2 separate regions of the Homo sapiens genome follow, and region 1 is linked to region 2. Evidence: fine-mapped expression QTL. A gene starts in region 2. The other region holds a variant in brackets. All regions are shown on one strand. Distances are between the middles of the regions. Region 1 overlaps USP47 (ubiquitin specific peptidase 47). Region 2 holds the start of USP47 (ubiquitin specific peptidase 47).

Region 1 (8,348 bases), 80 kb after region 2:
CTTAACCCAACCAAGAGATCACGGGCAGCTTCGGCAAAAGAACTGTGAGCACTTACTATATTAAATTAAGGCCTAAATACAAGGGTGGGAACACGGGAACAGCAGAGTAGTATGTAATGTTACATGTTAGACAAAGTACAAATAATACCACTTTTTAGAAGGGGGAGAGAAAGGGAGAGCAGAATAAGATCACAGACTGTTGTGTGGGTGGGGAATAAAGGAGACCATTTAAAACTGGCAGACACTGAAAGCTTAAGAAAGAGTAAACAGGGTGGGGGTGGGTGGGAAAAAAAGAGGTCCAAGGACACTAACAAAACTATAAATGCAAAAGTAACTGTAGAATAAAATTACAAACCTTGCTAAATACCAAAAGAAAATGTAAAAAATAACAAAGGAACACAATAAATATTACCTAACACACACAGTAATTACACAGTAGTGACTGAGATAGGACCAAGCATACCAGTCATATCAAATATGAGTGGGCTTAAATTGCCTATTAAAAAGATTTTCAAGTTGGTTCAGAAAGCAAACATTAAAATTTGATTTAGGCAGGAATCTGTAAGTGGATGTTAAAATCAAGGGTGGAAGATTTGGTAAGGCTCAGGATTTTTGCATGGTCTCCAAGTATCTCCTTACAGATTGCTTATTAGCCGCGAGAGTAAAAATAATAACTATATGGTAGAGAGACTGGACAATACCTTGACCAGATAATTAAAGCTAATATCACCAAAGAGAAAGTTAGGTACATCATGGCCTGTGACTATGCTACCCTTAGAAGGGCACATCTTTGCTAATGTCATAGTAGCCTAGCAAGGAATGTATAAATCTAATAATGAAGAACATCAGACAAACCCAAATTGCAGAACATTTTATAAAATAAGTGGCCTCTGTTCTTCAAAAAATATCAGTGTTATGAAAGAAAGGCAAACTCTGGAATGCCTCGAGATTAAAGGAATCTCAAGAGACCAAACAAAATCTGTGGCCTTGAGACAGATTGTGTACTAGATGGAGAGAAATACATTGTTAAGGTAATTGACAGAATTGGAATATGGCTGATGAAAGTACTTTATCAGTATTAAATTTTCCAGAGTTTGATTACTGTTTGTGTAAGAATATCTTTATTCTTAAAAAGTCATATTGAAGTTAAGAGGCAAAGCATGATGAGGTGTGAACCTACTCTCAAATGGCTAAAACAAAGATACATAATAATGTTGGGTTGGGCGAGGGAAAGCAAAATTGGCAAAAATGTTTAAAAGTTGATGAATATGAGTAAAGTATTTGAGAGTTCTCTGTTCTTTAAACTTTTCTCCAAGTTTTAATTTTTTTTAAAGATCTCTAGGTATTAACTATAAGCCGGAGACCAATACACACACACCAAAGTAGAATTTGAGTTACATAATTATCTCACTCTCCCTCTCCCCCCATCCTTTTTTGAATATTGAGTTTTTACCAGTTTAAATTACCACTATTTGGAAAGCCTGACATTTAGTATCAGTCTGTGTTAAGCTATAGATGTAATTTCTTTAAAGCTTGTTTTTCTGTTGTTTTTTATAGAACTTTCCTTTTTCCCCCAAAAATATGCCTGAGAGGGAAAAAAAATTTTTTTCTAAATGTGTCATTTGACCACCAATAAAATGCATGGTCATGTGGAAAAAAACCCAGCCGTTTGGTTTCTTCACTTGTTTCCTTGTGTTCTGAGAACAAAATAGGGGATCAGATGGGTTTAGACACCTTTGAATATCTATGTCTTTTCTTATTTTTATCTTGTTCCAAAGTGAGCTCTATCAAACAATATGTGGACAGTAGTTTTCTAAGCTTTGCCAGATATTTTGCAACTACGACCATTAAGCTCCTTTATCTTTTGAGGAACAGCTTGTCCTATATCAAAAGAAAAATATTTGAAGATACTGTCTTAATGATTCCATTTCTTTTAGTTTATGTGTAATATTATCAGTAGTTCTGCTTAGCCCATGTGTGAAGAAAAGAGAGAACATCAGATGAAATTTGAGATTATGCGTCCAATCTTATATGCTATATTAACTAATTTTTTAATCGTGAAAAACCAATTACTAAAATAAAAATTAACTTTATGCCACTGATTCTTTAACAGTATTTATATGAAGTTTCTTACTTCTGTTGTAATGCTGTATGGAGAAAAGAGAACCACGTGGTTCTACCAAATTAACAATCCAGGATCCTCATTATACATTTCCAAATGGAACAGTATCTCACACACACACAGAAGGTTGCACAGTGTTTTTCAATCTTTATAACTAGTGCAGTGGCAGATTACTGACTGATCCTAACTATGGCGATTAAGGATGCTTACATGATTTTTAAGTGTATGAAAAGTGTGAATTCTTTAGAGAACATTGATATTTACTGTACAGTTTTAAATGCTTCCTTTTATAAGAAGATTGATGCATGCAACTGCTTTTCTTAGAAGTGTGGAATTACTTTTTATCTAAGGACTGAGGATATTTTTAGAGATTATTTAGCCAAACACTGCAATGTAAAGTCAATGAAAATCAGGTTGAAATGACTGTGATACTGCAATACTAAGAAAGGCAAATCTTGTGTAGAATGAAATAATTTTTTTTGCTTAATTTTTATAGTGATAATATTATTTTACTGTTGATAATTTTCCTTGGTACATTTTGAGTTCCTAAATTTCTAACCATTCTACTTATAACTTTTAGTAATTACAGTCTTTTTTATTCAGGATTTTGTCATTAATATAATATTTTAAGTAATTATAAAACAAATTTTTTTCTAACTAGGAAGAAGCATTGCATGCATTTATTCAGCCAGAGATTCTGGATGGCCCAAATCAGTATTTTTGTGAACGTTGTAAGAAGAAGTGTGATGCACGGAAGGTAAATGCCATGTAGAGATTAATACTTAGGAATCTGAGATAATATTCCATATTCAATAGACTCTCCCCCTTTTTGTTGTTTGTTTTTTAGGGCCTTCGGTTTTTGCATTTTCCTTATCTGCTGACCTTACAGCTGAAAAGATTCGATTTTGATTATACAACCATGCATAGGATTAAACTGAATGATCGAATGACATTTCCCGAGGAACTAGATATGAGTACTTTTATTGATGTTGAAGATGAGGTAAATATTTGTTATTTTAAAGTATTTTTCATTAATCCACATTAGTCAGTCATGGTTTTGAAAGAGCTGTTTGAGGTAATAACACTGATGTCATTTGGACTGTCTTCTTGATGGAAACTTTTTCTTTCTTATTTTCTAATGTGGAATTCAATAAAATGATTTACCTTTGTATAAGCTTTTCCTGACTGCATAAATTATATTTTAAATATTCTTGTTTGATCAGAGTAACTTATGATACTCTTTGAAAAGACAATAAGGAACTCAGCTTTGGAATTATTTCTTGAAGTTGAGTGATAATCTTATATTTTATAATTTCGTCGTTATTGAAACCAGCCTGAAGGTAAGCCATACTCATGTTTCTGATCTATAATAAATGCAGACAATGCCTATGATGGAATGAATGAACCAACTGAATAGCATGGGCTTAATTTCTTGTACTTACCTACTATTTTGTATTTACTATTTGTCTGTTTTCCTTTTTTAGTTTTTTTAATTTGAAACTTTATTTAAATAATTTAAGCATGGGATTTGAAGTGACACATGATGTAATGCTTATCAATTTCTTCCCACACTTTGGCCTGCCAAAATTCTCTGGTTCTTCTATCCTTATTCAATGAAAGACTTACAATATTCCACTCTATTATTTTGGAAACTCTTCTGATTTTATTATGTGGAATACTTATAATCACTTAGGCTAATTATTTCAAAGTGATTTATTCTCAGAATTACCCTGAAGCGTTTTTTTTTTGTTTTGTTTTGTTTTGTTTTACTGGAACTGATTACTATAGTTATAAAAAATGCCTTTTCCCAGGAGTTCAAAAATAATTTTAAACATTCACTAAGTTTTATTTAGTACTATTGAGTACTATGAGGCAGTTTGGTGTAGAAGAGCACATGTTTTAGGCATAGCTAGATGTGGATTCAAATTCTTGTCCTGCTACTTGCTAGCCTCTTGACCTTGGATAATTCATAAAACCTTTTGAGCCTCATTTCCAGATGCC[A/G]TAGATGAAGTAGCTGTTCATTGAATGGTAACTATGATCAATAACATTTTGAAAAGTTTAATTTAAAATAATGTCTCAGACAGTTGCGCTTAAGCTAGGAAATCTACCCAAAGTGTGCCAGACTTTGAGAGGAGACATAATCTTTGTAGGATTTCTACTCAAATAGAGATCAGTAGTAGATTGGTCTTCTGAATATGCCTAATATATTTCTCATAAAGGAAAATTTTTTCCAAAGAAGGAAAACTTATATATGAAGCTTAGTAGAAACTTCCTAGAGAATTCTAGGTTTAGTTCTTGGGACAAGAAATGTTTTGGCTCAGCTGAAGAAGTTTCAGGAATTATATCTCTTTGGACTTAGATCTATAGCTGGATTTCATCTCCATTTATCCTTGAACCTAACCTTCTTGAGAGATGAAGACTGTATATTAGATGTAGTACCTACAACAAGAGTTCCTGGCAAAAAGTTTGTGCTTATTGTATATTGCTTGGTTTCACTCAAGAACTTCTATGCAATGCCTTATACATTTCAAAAGCCTGCATCTTAGAAAATTCTCAAATTATTTAAATAAAAACATTTTTAGAGATGTATATAAAACGTTAAAGGGGGAAAGGATTGTTTGGGGGTTTCTAACAAAGAGAATTCTTCAAATTAAATTTGTGTGAATGTGGTTTAAAACCATAAAGTAGAAAAGTATAATGTGCTGTAACCATTATATTTCTACTTCCTGTAAAAAGACTATCAAGTTCTTAAGGATGAATACAATGTCTTGTTTCTCTTTCTAATTATCTGTAATACCTAACGCACTGATAAACCGAGTTGGACTTTTTGTTCAAGAAAAGAAATTATATTCTTTCCTGATTTGAGAACACCAGAAGCTCATTTTGGAGCTCAGCTTCTCTGATTTTGTGGATTTTGCTAAAAGAAATGATAATTTCAACCATTATGTTGTAACAGTAAACATAAATGAGGTTTAATAGAATTCTGAATCACTAATTTGTTGTATTAGAATTTTAAGGACATGATAGAAATGCTTTTAAAATACACTGTTGCTTGTTTAATTTTACTTAAGGTCTCAATTTTTAAGAGAAAATAAATGTACTCAAAGTAAAATATTTTTACTAATATGTTAAATTGTGTGAAAATATTAGCAGTATATAGGTACAAAGTTTTGTTGAACATATTTTCTCTGTATATGGTTTATAACTAAGATAATTATGTCTTATTAAGAAATCTCCTCAGACTGAAAGTTGCACTGACAGTGGAGCAGAAAATGAAGGTAGTTGTCACAGTGATCAGATGAGCAACGATTTCTCCAATGATGATGGTGTTGATGAAGGAATCTGTCTTGAAACCAATAGTGGAACTGAAAAGATCTCAAAATCTGGACTTGAAAAGGTACCTTTTATAGTTTGCATTTTTTAGTTGAAAGTGAGAATAATCTCTGACTTCCTATATAATTCTATAGCTGTTGTGACTGATAAAGTTATCTTTAAAAGAAACTTAATTTTTGAAAGTTAAGACTTCTCAAATATAGTTTTTTTGTACATATATATATATATATATATATATATATATATATATATATATATGACTATAATTAAACTTCAGGAAAAACTGCTTACAGGTAAGAACATTAATTTTTGGGAGACCATACTTTAAACTGTCTAAGCAAGCTGGATGGTACAGAAACGATGCCTAGTAGTCAAGAAACCAAGATTCTATTACCACCTCTGCCTTTAAGGTTGCAGCAAGTGTCTATAAATTTTGTCTGAGTTTTCCTATATAGAAAAGTAAAATGTTGGATTAGTCATTGATTTTTAAAAGTCTGGCCATGAAACACTTTATGAGACAATTAATAATAGATCTGATCTTTCTGAGTAGGGAAATGCCAAAGCCCCCTAGTCTTTCTTCCCTGTCCTGCGATAGTCCTCAAGACACTTTGAAAAATGGTATAGTTCTATGGATTATCATTTGAAAACCACAGAATTGGATAATCTCTGGGATAGGATCTTGCCCCTGTGTCAATAACTTTAAGGGTTTTTTAGACCATTTTTTTCCACATATATTCTGTTTTATTGAGGGAAAGATTATAGATAAAACGTCTTGAGCATGGTGTGAATAATAAACTCCTAATGTGAAGACTGATCACTAACTCAGGTATTACAGAGTCATTAAATATAGGGATTTTTAAGGCAATATTTAAAAATAGAGTTTTACTTTCATAAATCTGTTTTTAGACCAAGGCCATTCTTCTAATTATCACCACCACCCTTTACTTTTTAAAATTATCTGTTTCATTCAGGGCAGACAGTTGAGCAGGGATTGCTATGTAATGAATAATGTAATAAGTACATTGTAACTGAGTATAGAAACATGGCATTCTAGCAGGAGTTGGCAAACTATGGCTCAAGAGCCAAATCTGGGCCCTTGCCTGTGTTTTTACATACACTTTCATTTCATCTGCAAATAAAGACAGTATTCTTCCTTTCCCATCTGCATGCCTTTTTCTTGTCTCACTGCACTCTGTGGGACTTCCAATGCAGTGTTGAATAGAGTGGTGAGGGAGAACTTCCTTACCTTGTTTCCAATCTTCAGAGGAAAGCTTTCAGTTTCTTATCATTGAGTGTGATGTTGACTTTCAGTTTTTTATGTTCTTTTCCTACTTTGTTGAAAACTTTTATCATGAATAGGTATTGGATTTTTCCAGATTTTTTTTTCTATGTCAGTTGATATGATCATGTATGTAATTTTCTTCTTCAGCCTGAATTACATAGATTGATTTTCAAATGTTAAGCTGTCTTTGCATACCTGGAATGAATCCTGCTTTGTCATGGTGTGTGTTTCTTTTTATACTTTGTTGATTTGATTTGCTAATATTTTGCAGAGGATTTTTGCATCTGTGTTCATGAGATGCATTGATCTGTAGTTTTCCTTTCTCATAGTGTCTTTATCTGCTTTTGGTGATGTTGGGCTCATGTAATAAGTTAGGGAATGTTCCCTCTGCCTTTATTTTTGGAAGAGATTGTGGAAACTTGGTATTGTTTCTTAAATATTTGGTAGAATTCACCAGAGAAATTATCTGGGCCTGGTGCTTTCTTTTTTAGAAAGTGGTTAATTATTGATTTAATTTCTATAATAGATATAGGACTTTTCAGGTTACCTGTTTCTCCTTTGTGAGTTCTGGTGGTTTGTGATTTTTAAGAAGTTGGTCTGTTTTATCTGTGTTATCAAACTTGGGGGCATAGAGTTGTACAAAGTATTCTTTTATTGTCCTTTTAATTGTCCTTTAATGTCCTTTTAATGCAGGGATGAACCTTCTTTCATTTCGGATACTGGCAATTTGTGTCGTCTTTTTAATCTCGGTTAGCCTAATTAGAGATTTACCAATTGTATTGGGGTTTTTTTCTTCCAAAGGACCAGCTTTTGGTTTTGTTCACTTTTTCTGTTGTTTTCCTATTTTCAATATTGATAAGGATTGCATTGAACCTATAGATCACTTTGTATAGTGTGGACATTTTAACAGTATTAAGTCTTCCAGTTCATGAACAGAGGATGTCTTTCCATTTATTTGTGTCTTTAATTTCTTTCCTTGATGTTTTTTTGTTTTAGTTTTTGGTTTTTTTTTTTTTGAGACGGAGTCTCGCTCTGTCGCCCAGGCTCCAGTGAAGTGGTGTGATCTCGGCTCACTGCAAGTTCCACCTCCCAAGTTCACGCCATTCTCCTGCCTCAGCCTCCTGAGTAGCTGGAACTACAGGCACCGGCCACCACGCCCAGCTAATTTTTTTGTATTTTTAGTAGAGATGGGGTTTCACCATGTTAGCCATGATGGTCTTGATCTCCTGACCTCATGATCCACCCACCTCGGCCTCCCACTGGGATTACAGGCGTGAGCCACCGCACCCGGCCTCCTTAATGTTTTATGGTTTTTCACTGTATGAGTCTTCTGCCTCCTTGGTTAAGTTTATTCCTAAGAATTTTATTCTCTTTGACACTATTGTAAATGGAATTGTTTTCTTAATTTTCTTTTTGGATTGTTAGTGTTAGTGAAACAATAAATTGTTAGTATTTAGAAATGCAACAGATTTGTGTGTGTGTTGATTTTGTATCCTGCACTTTTTGTTGAATTTACTTGTTAGGGTTTTTTTTTTTATGCGGAATCTTTATTTTCTACATACAAGATTGTCATCAGTGAACAGAAATAATTTTTCTTCTTTCTTTCCTATT
Region 2 (8,348 bases):
AAATAGCCAATTTGAAAAGCCCACATACCATGATTCCAACACTCTGGAAAAGGTAAACCTATGAAGACAGTAAAAAGATCAGTGAATGCCAGGAGTTAGGAGAGACAGAGGGATTAATAGGCAGAACACAGCAGATTTTGAGGGCGGTGAAACTATTCTGTATTATACTGCAATGGTGGATATATATCATTATATATTTATCAAAACACATGGAATGTACAACACCAAGAACGAACCCTAATGTAAACTATGGACTTTGGATGATAATGATATATCAATGTAGGTTCATCAGTTGTAACAAATGTACCACTGTGGTGGCAGCTGTCAATAGTGGAGAGGGTGTGTGTGTAGGGACAGTGGGTGTATGAGAACTCTCTGTGCTTTCAGCTCAATTTTGCTGTAAACCTAAAATTGCTCTAAAAAATAAAGTTTAATTACAATTTCTTCTCATTTACTATTTAAATATAGTCTTTGCTGTGAATAATAAAAACAAAGGCTGGGCACGGTGGCTTATGCCTGTAATCCCAGCACTTTGGGAGGTCGAGCGGGTGGATCACCTGAGGTCAGGAGTTCGAGACCAGCCTGGCCAACATGGTGAAACCCTGTCTTTACTAAAAACAAAAATCTGCTGGGCGTGGTGGTATGCACCCGTAATCCCAGCTACTCAGGAGGCTGAGGCAGGAGAATCGCTTCAACCCAGGAGGCAGAGGTTGCAGTGAGCCAAGATCACACCACTGCACTCCAGCCTGGGCAACAAGAGCAAAACTCCATCTCAATAATAATAATAATAATAATAATAAAGTGTATTAAATTTTTTAAAAACATTTTAAAAACTAAGAAATGAATATTAGTACATAAATATTAACCAAATACACATTTTATTTGAGTTTTACCATTTTTTTTTGTTAACGGCTTCTTCCTGTTTCAGGATCCAATTCAGAGTGCCACATTGCATTTACTTGTCATATTTCCTCAGTTTCCTCTGGTCTATGACAGTGTCTCAGTTTTTCATTGTTTTTCATGACCTTAACAGTCTTGAGGAATACTGACCAGGCATCCTGTAGAATGTCCTCCAAACTGGGTTTGTGTGATTTTTTTTCATACTTTGACTGGGGTTATACTATGAACATTTTCATTTGAAAAGGAAAAGGAAAATATTCCCAAAGAAATTATAAGAAAAATCATCAGCCTCTGACCTACACCAGTCTTGGCATTTGGTTTTTGTTTTTAATTCAACACCAATTTATTAATGACCTACTATGTGCTAGGCATTGTTCTAGACATTGAGGATGCATTATGGACAACCAGTTTAGATTGGATTATCATAAAAGGCCTTTTCGAAGATTTAACATTTGAGAAGCCCAAATGACAAGATTGAACTAGATAAGAGAAAAGATCTACGGGAAGAATATTTCAGGGAAAGGAAATAACTACTACAAAGGCTTTGGGGCAGAGACAAACTTTATGTGTTTAAAAAGCTCAATAAAGGCAAAGTGGCTGGGTCATTGGGCGTAAGAGGAAGAGTGGCAGATGACTGGAGCAAGACAGATGGGTTTGATTACATTGGATCTCACAGGCTATAGCAAAGAATATGAATTTTATTCTAAGAGGGATGAGATGTCTTTGGAAGATTTGGAAGGGATATGACATATTTTTGAAAGATCACTCTGGTTGCTCTATGGAATATGGATTGTTGAGGGATAAGATTAGAAACAGGAACCCAGTTAGGAGGTAACTGCAGTAGTACAGGCAAAAGAATAAAGTAATTGGAGTGGGATGTGCAGTAGTAGATAGAAGGAAAAGTGGATGGATTTGAGATGTGTTTCAGAGGTGGAAGCAACAGCCCATATGAAGGGATTGAATGTAAGATGAAGAGTGTCAGGTTTTTGGTTTGATAAACTGAATTGATGACAGTGTAATTTATCAAGGTGGAGAAGAACTGATAGAGGATATGTTGCAGGAGGTAGGGGAGGCTTGGAAATCAAATGTTCTGTTCAGGTCAAGTTTAAATTTGGGAGGTATTGAGCCATTAAAAAGGTAGATATATGAGTTTACAGCCTATAGGAGAGGTGAGGACAAGGGACGTAACATTTACATATAAAGTAAATAAACACATATCCATGTAATCTCAGTAATAATATATTAGGAAGAGTAGCCATATATTTGTATTTGTCCATTTATTCATTAATCAATTCATGAATCCACATACTTATTCCACAAATATTCATTGTATACTTACCATCTTATCAGGCTCTCCTGCAATAGTCAAGCCAGTGGCCTATAAAGAAAAGAGTGTGCAATCAGAAAAGGGGGATTGTAGGAAGAAAATGTTAGACTTTCTTTTTATATTTATTTTAATCTAAAAACGCAAAATTAAATCTTACTTATATTGAATATATAAACACCAGCATCTCACTACTCCTGAGTGAGAAGTGTGAGTTCTGCAATGTAGAGAATTCAGAGATTCCTTCATTTTCTTTTAGTATGTTGTCACTTATTCCAGTTTATGTGGGCTGGGTTAAGTAGATTTATCAATTACATTCTTATTTCATTATATCAACCTTTACTAAAATGAAAGTGACTAAAAAGGATTTCTGGAAAGACAACATGAGTTTGAAATAATATTGCAAGCATAAGCAAAAAAGATGACAGAGATGACATTTTTACTTCTAGGGTGAGCACTACAGCACTGGCCAGCACTACAGAAGACACCTTACTAAGTCATGGGATGACATTTTGAAAATAAAAGTTTGGAAATATTTCCATCATGTGATTTTGATGCAAAAATGATATATGTGAGCCACCCAAGTCTGGGACTATGGTGAAGCAAATGGTTTTCAAGGTGAAAACCGTTCACCTTGGGCACAAAATTTAAGGGGGGGGTGCCAAAAATTCAATAATCAAGACAACTAATCTTAATACAATATTTTAAAAAGTCAAAATTTATCTTAATCAATCCATGATAATCAAAATATCAAAACCTTAAAGACAAGATCTATAACTCCCAAAACTCATACATGAATACTTAAAACTTGAAGATAGAAATTTTCAACTTCTTAAAAATCTTCTAAGCAATTTATTCCAAAGAGCTTTGAACCCATTTGTAAAAATATAAAAATGCAACATCTTCTGGTTGACATCAGGAAAGATGGAACACTACTAGCTGAATTTCAATAAAAACCTTTGCATGGTTGTTGGATGGAATGGATAAAAATGAAACTTTTTTCATATCAGTTTTTTTTTTTAAATCGTTCTAAACATGCATTAGGAAGAGTGGCCAAAGATGTACTTCCTCCTTTAGGATCTACATCTTTGTGAGTTACCTTTTTTTCAGCTTATGACAGCCATTAAAACCAAGTACAAAAATAACCTGACGTTCAATCAGATATTTTAATAACTATTTCACGAAGTATTAAAGATTTTTAAAACTAACGAAACCTAGTCAATCATATTGATTTCCTTAAATATTTTTAGTGAGAATAACAAAGATTTTTATACCATTAATATGGAAAATAACTAAGTTATTTTAAATGTTTATGTCATCTTTGTCTTAGCCTTTTTACATTTTACAAATGTTTTATAATTCTGCACACAGCAGGACACGTATAAAACTTATATAAGTATATGGATTTTTTTTTGGTAACGGGATTACAATAAAAAAAAGTTTGGAGAACACAAGTGCAGGCAGTTAATGCTGTGGGTGTTAGGAACATGACAAGATTATATTATCTCAGCATGCTGTAAGATCACTGTATCCATAAAAGTCTTCATGAAGGAGCCCCGCCGAGTCTCCATAATGGAAGCAGGATTTGGAGAAATGACTTCTGCAAACTTTGTTTAGTATAACACAAAGCACCATGCTTACTACTAGAGAAGATTAAAATTCTCTAAAAACCTTGTTAACGGAGATCACAGGTTGAAGCATACTGCAGCTCTACTCTTGGAAGGCTAGCTCAGTCTCAGACTTGGCCCTGATGGAGAAGGAAGTTCCCTGGAAGAGGGCAGGGGAGCGCCTCTCCAATGTAGTTGCGGGGGGCGGGCGGTGAGGACACCGCTTCATAAGGGAAGGGGTGGCTGCCTCCCCAAGCAGGGGGTGGCCCCTGAGGTCCCTCCAGCTGGGGGCCCTTGAGAGGGAGGGTGGGGAGAGGGGAAAAGAACGTCAGGAGAGTGAACGGGAGCAAATAAAACGCTGTCCATTCTGACTGGAAGGGCCAGAGCCGTGTCTAAGGGCGGGGGCCGGGAGGTGGCCCGCGGTGGTGTCTCTACCAGGACGAGGCCTGGGGTATCTGAAGAGGGGATGACGTCCAGGCGCTTTGCTAAAGGGAAGCCAGAAGGGTATGAGTTGCTAGGGTCAGAGATGGGGCTTTCGGCTCGAGTCTTTCCCTGCAGGGCAGAGAGTCCGAAGAGCCCGAGAAGGCAGGGAGGACAGTGGGCCTGGTCCTTCCCCGGCCGGCAGAGGGAGTCCCGAGATGGAACGTCCAGCTCTCCTCTAACGAAAAGCGTTTGCATGGCTGTCTCGCCAATTCTGTACCTCCCGGGGCTGAGGAAGAGCCGAGGTGACTAGAAGCTAGCGACAAGTGCCGGCCACCTCCGACGCCAGGCGCCGGGCTTGGAGCCCGACGGGCCGAATTCTCGCGAGAGCGGCCGCCGCCATTTTTCCATTGATTGCAGCGGGCTGGGGGAGGGGCCGACGACGAAGGCGGCTGTGGTAGCGGCGGCGGCGGCGGCGGAGCCCTGGGTCGGTGTCTGCGCGCTGGTGTCTGAGGCCCAGGCTGAGGCCTCCGCTATTGCTGGAGCGCAGGCGGCGGAGAGGATGACTGCCGCTGCCATTCTCTCTTGAGCTAGCGAGCCGCCGCCACCCTCCACCCTCCCCCGGCAGGGCGGAGAGGAGCGGCCGGAGTCAGCGATGGTGCCCGGCGAGGAGAACCAACTGGTCCCGAAAGAGGTGAGGGGCCCCAGAGGAGGTTAGGCCTTAGGCCTGCGGCCGCTCGAGGCAACACAGGCCCGGGCCGGGGTTCGGCTGCGGGCCCGGCCGGGGTGCAGGCTCGGCTGTGGGGGAATGAGGAGGCGTGAGGCAGTCGGGGGTGGACGGTGGGTGCGGCGAGCAGTTGGGAGACCCGCTGGCTCTAGGGGCCGGGGAGCGGACCTCCCGCCTCGGGTTTTATGGGGCTGGACGAATAAAGGAGCGGACGGGAAAGAATCAGGTTCTGCTCTAGGGGAGAAGGTGGCCTTTTAAGTTCTTGTTTAACGTGTGGAGCCGGGAGAGATCATTTCAAAGAAAACATTCTGGAACAGTTGCCTATGGGCACGGCAGGGTGACGGTGCTGCTTCTGGGTTTGACAGTGGCAGCGTATAGCTTTCAGCGCTTGTGAAATCTACACCCAAGTGAGATCTGTGGGAGGGCAGACTTAACTGTTACGACTTTTTTCAACTCCTGTTACTTGGTAGTACTATTGGCCTGCCTAAATGGGGCCTACCGAAGATCGTGGAAAAGTAGTACATGGGACATTAATGTAAAGGAAGGAGATAGGAGAACATTACCACATGGAGAGCTGAACTCTTTTTTTTTTTTTTTTTTTTTGAGGTTGGGTTGTGTATGCCAATTTGAGTGACTTCTTAAATTCTTAAAAGCAAGTGATACGAGAAGCCTTGACTACTTGGCTTCTCTTGAATAGTAGTAGAAGATTTAGGGTAGAATCCAGCACTGGCCAGCGAATTTCAACGTATTAATAGTATCTCTGTTGGCTTTATAAATATCTTCGGCGTATTCAAATGTGTATTTTTAACTGGCTGATCATCAGGCTAATGCTTTGGATTTTTATTTCTCATATACCTTAAATAGAGACAAGTGTTGGATTGAAATTAACTGTGTGCGATCTTGAAATTAATGAGTGATCATTACAGATTCTTAAATTTTTTTGTGCCTGTTTTACTTGTTTTGTAGCAATTCTTTGTTACTTAAGCAAGCTCTGACAGTATGCAAGGGTGATATTATTGGAGTTATGTACCTGTATGATACAAGTATTTTCCCAGCTTTGTCAGAAGGGCAGTGATAGTTGTTTTGCAAGGACGATTTTTGTAAAAGGCAGAGAGTTATGTGTCAGTATTTGTTCATCAAGCGTCACCAACTCTGTGCAAAGCAGATAAACAGATGAGTTAATCAGAATTCTTGCCTTGGGAACTTTCTGAGCTACTAAGAAAGGGAACACTAGTGTTTGTTGAACTCCAATTAGGGACTAGGTACTTTACCACGTAAGTAATTCTTATGCAAGGAAGGAAGTGATAGGTGCTGTAAGAAAGGTATAAATGTGTATTTCATTTTAGAGCTTCATATTGCTGGTTTTCATTTTTATAAAAAACAAAATTCTTTCTTAATTTTTTGACCATTAGAAAAATATCATATAGGTGGAACTCTGCTTTAAGAAAACCCAACATTAGATTTATTTCCCTAATAACTTGATTTATAGAAAACATGATATGATAATAGATACCGAGCTTTGCAGAAACATCTGTTGTGTAAAAAGTGATAACAGCAACGGAAGTTTAAAGATTAAATGCCTGTCCTTTTAAGATTAATTCCCTTCCCTGAGGCTTTAAATTCATCACAACTTATGTTTTTTCCCTTTCTTCTTTTTATGGACCATATGCCTTTATTGTCTATTCCTTAGTCTCATCTTCAGTCTTCTTTTTCCCTGGTTCCTTTCATGATTCCTGGAAGCATGATCTGTGGTTCTTACCTTTTATAGCTAGCCAACTAGCTTTTTCTTCTTTGATGGCCACACTCATTCTTTATTAAAGTGATTGCCTCCAGTTCCATATTTGCTTCTGGATTACTGGAAACTTTTTCTGAAAATCACCAGTTATCTCTTAAATGACCAAATTCTTTGACTTTTTTTTTCTTGCCTCTTCTGCTGTTCGAATTCTCTGCAGGATCTGATAGTTTTTTTAAAAAAACAATTTCTTGATTTTAGTGATACTCCACTTTTCTGGTCATTTTCCCACCTGTTTGTCCTATCTGCCCACTCATTTAGTCAAGGCCTTTCTCTTCTTTTTTGTATTCTTAATTGGCACTTTTGTGTGATCCTTGAAGCTCCGGGACAGGTCCTTTTAAACAGTAGTAGAATCATACAGTGCTAGAGCTAAGAGAAAGCATAATCATCATCTAAGTTACCCCTCCACTTTACAGTTAAGGGAGTTAGGCCCAGAAGATTGAAAGTGACTTGTTCAGGGTCAAATAATGAGTAAATGGCAGACCTAGTGCTAGAACTCACTTCCTTTGCTACTATTCCCTTGATTATACCCTATTTTACAGAGCCCTACATGTAATTTAGAGGCTCTGTAAGAATAGTTTGTAACTCTCTAAGTACATATATATGTGAAAATAAATGGCAAATTAAAAAATTTCATGCATTTATTTTAATGGCTTATTATCAATAATCTAAAGATTTTTTTTTTTTGAGGGCCTTTGTATAGGGAACCTCTGACCCCTGCTAGATTTAGATCTTGGTTAGATGTGGGCATGTGTGCGTGCGTGTGTTGGAGTGTATAGTTGTTCAGTGAATAATATATTTTGGTCCCTGAAACTCAAGGACAAATGTACCTTTAGAGGACTCTTGAAGAAGACAGCTTAGTGTAGTACAGGCATTGGCAAACCACGGCCTGTGGTCCAGATCAGTTCACAGCCTGGTTTTGTATGGCCTGTGAGTTAAGAATGAGTTTTACATTTTCGAATTGTTGAAGAAAAAAAGTCAAAAGAATTATAATAGTCTGTGACACATGAAAATAATGTGTAATTCAAATTTTAGTCTTGAAACAGCTATGCCATTTATTTAGTATTTTGTATGGCTACAACAGCAGAGATGAGTAGTTGCTACAGAGACTCTATGCAGGATAAATTTGAAATTACTTAGCTTGGTATTCAAGGCCCAGTACCATTGATTCTGGCCACAACCTGTCCTTCCAGCTTATCTCTTCTCCCATGAAACAGGTTTTTAATGTAGTCAAACAGGTTTCTCTCTAACTTGCATTTCACTTCTGTTTGTGCTGCCCCCTCCTTCCTGTTCAAAACCTTCATACACATTTTTCCATAAGTACCTCATATCTCATTTATGCTAAATAGCCTTTTCTGACCATTTTAACCTTAGAGATTTCTCCCTCTTAGAAGACCTTTATATAGGAATAGAATTCATTTGGCAATTACTAGATGGTGCTTGGCGACATCTATTATGATCTGAAACTGTAATCTACATTTTATATATTATTTGTTGTGAATTCCTTGACAGCAAAGACTTGGTATGTTTCTCTGTCTTTGCTTTTTGTTTTTGTAGGTTTTGTACTATAGGTTTAAG

Evidence for each region. PIP is the estimated chance that this variant, and not a neighbour inherited with it, causes the effect.
Region 1: its variant is fine-mapped to the expression of USP47 in blood mononuclear cells (TOPMed, PIP above 0.99). The same link has a PIP of 0.9 or more in whole blood.

The regions. Positions count from the first base shown.
Region 1 is chr11:11,917,373-11,925,720 of GRCh38, forward strand. It overlaps USP47 (ubiquitin specific peptidase 47), which reads left to right. Exons shown (of 28, transcript NM_001282659.2): 9 at 2,784-2,879; 10 at 2,970-3,122; 11 at 5,352-5,519. Among named protein-coding and RNA genes, the nearest start is that of USP47, 80 kb to the left of the region's middle. The variant A/G (reference allele first, on the strand shown) is at 4,124.
Region 2 is chr11:11,837,280-11,845,627 of GRCh38, forward strand. USP47 (ubiquitin specific peptidase 47) reads left to right here and starts at 4,693. Exons shown (of 28, transcript NM_001282659.2): 1 at 4,693-4,945. The coding sequence starts at 4,907. It overlaps LOC107984311 (a long non-coding RNA gene), which reads right to left and starts at 4,562. Exons shown (of 4, transcript XR_001748134.3): 1 at 3,896-4,562; 2 at 2,240-2,278. RefSeq lists enhancers at 3,769-4,634, 4,417-4,586, 4,635-5,498, 4,797-4,936.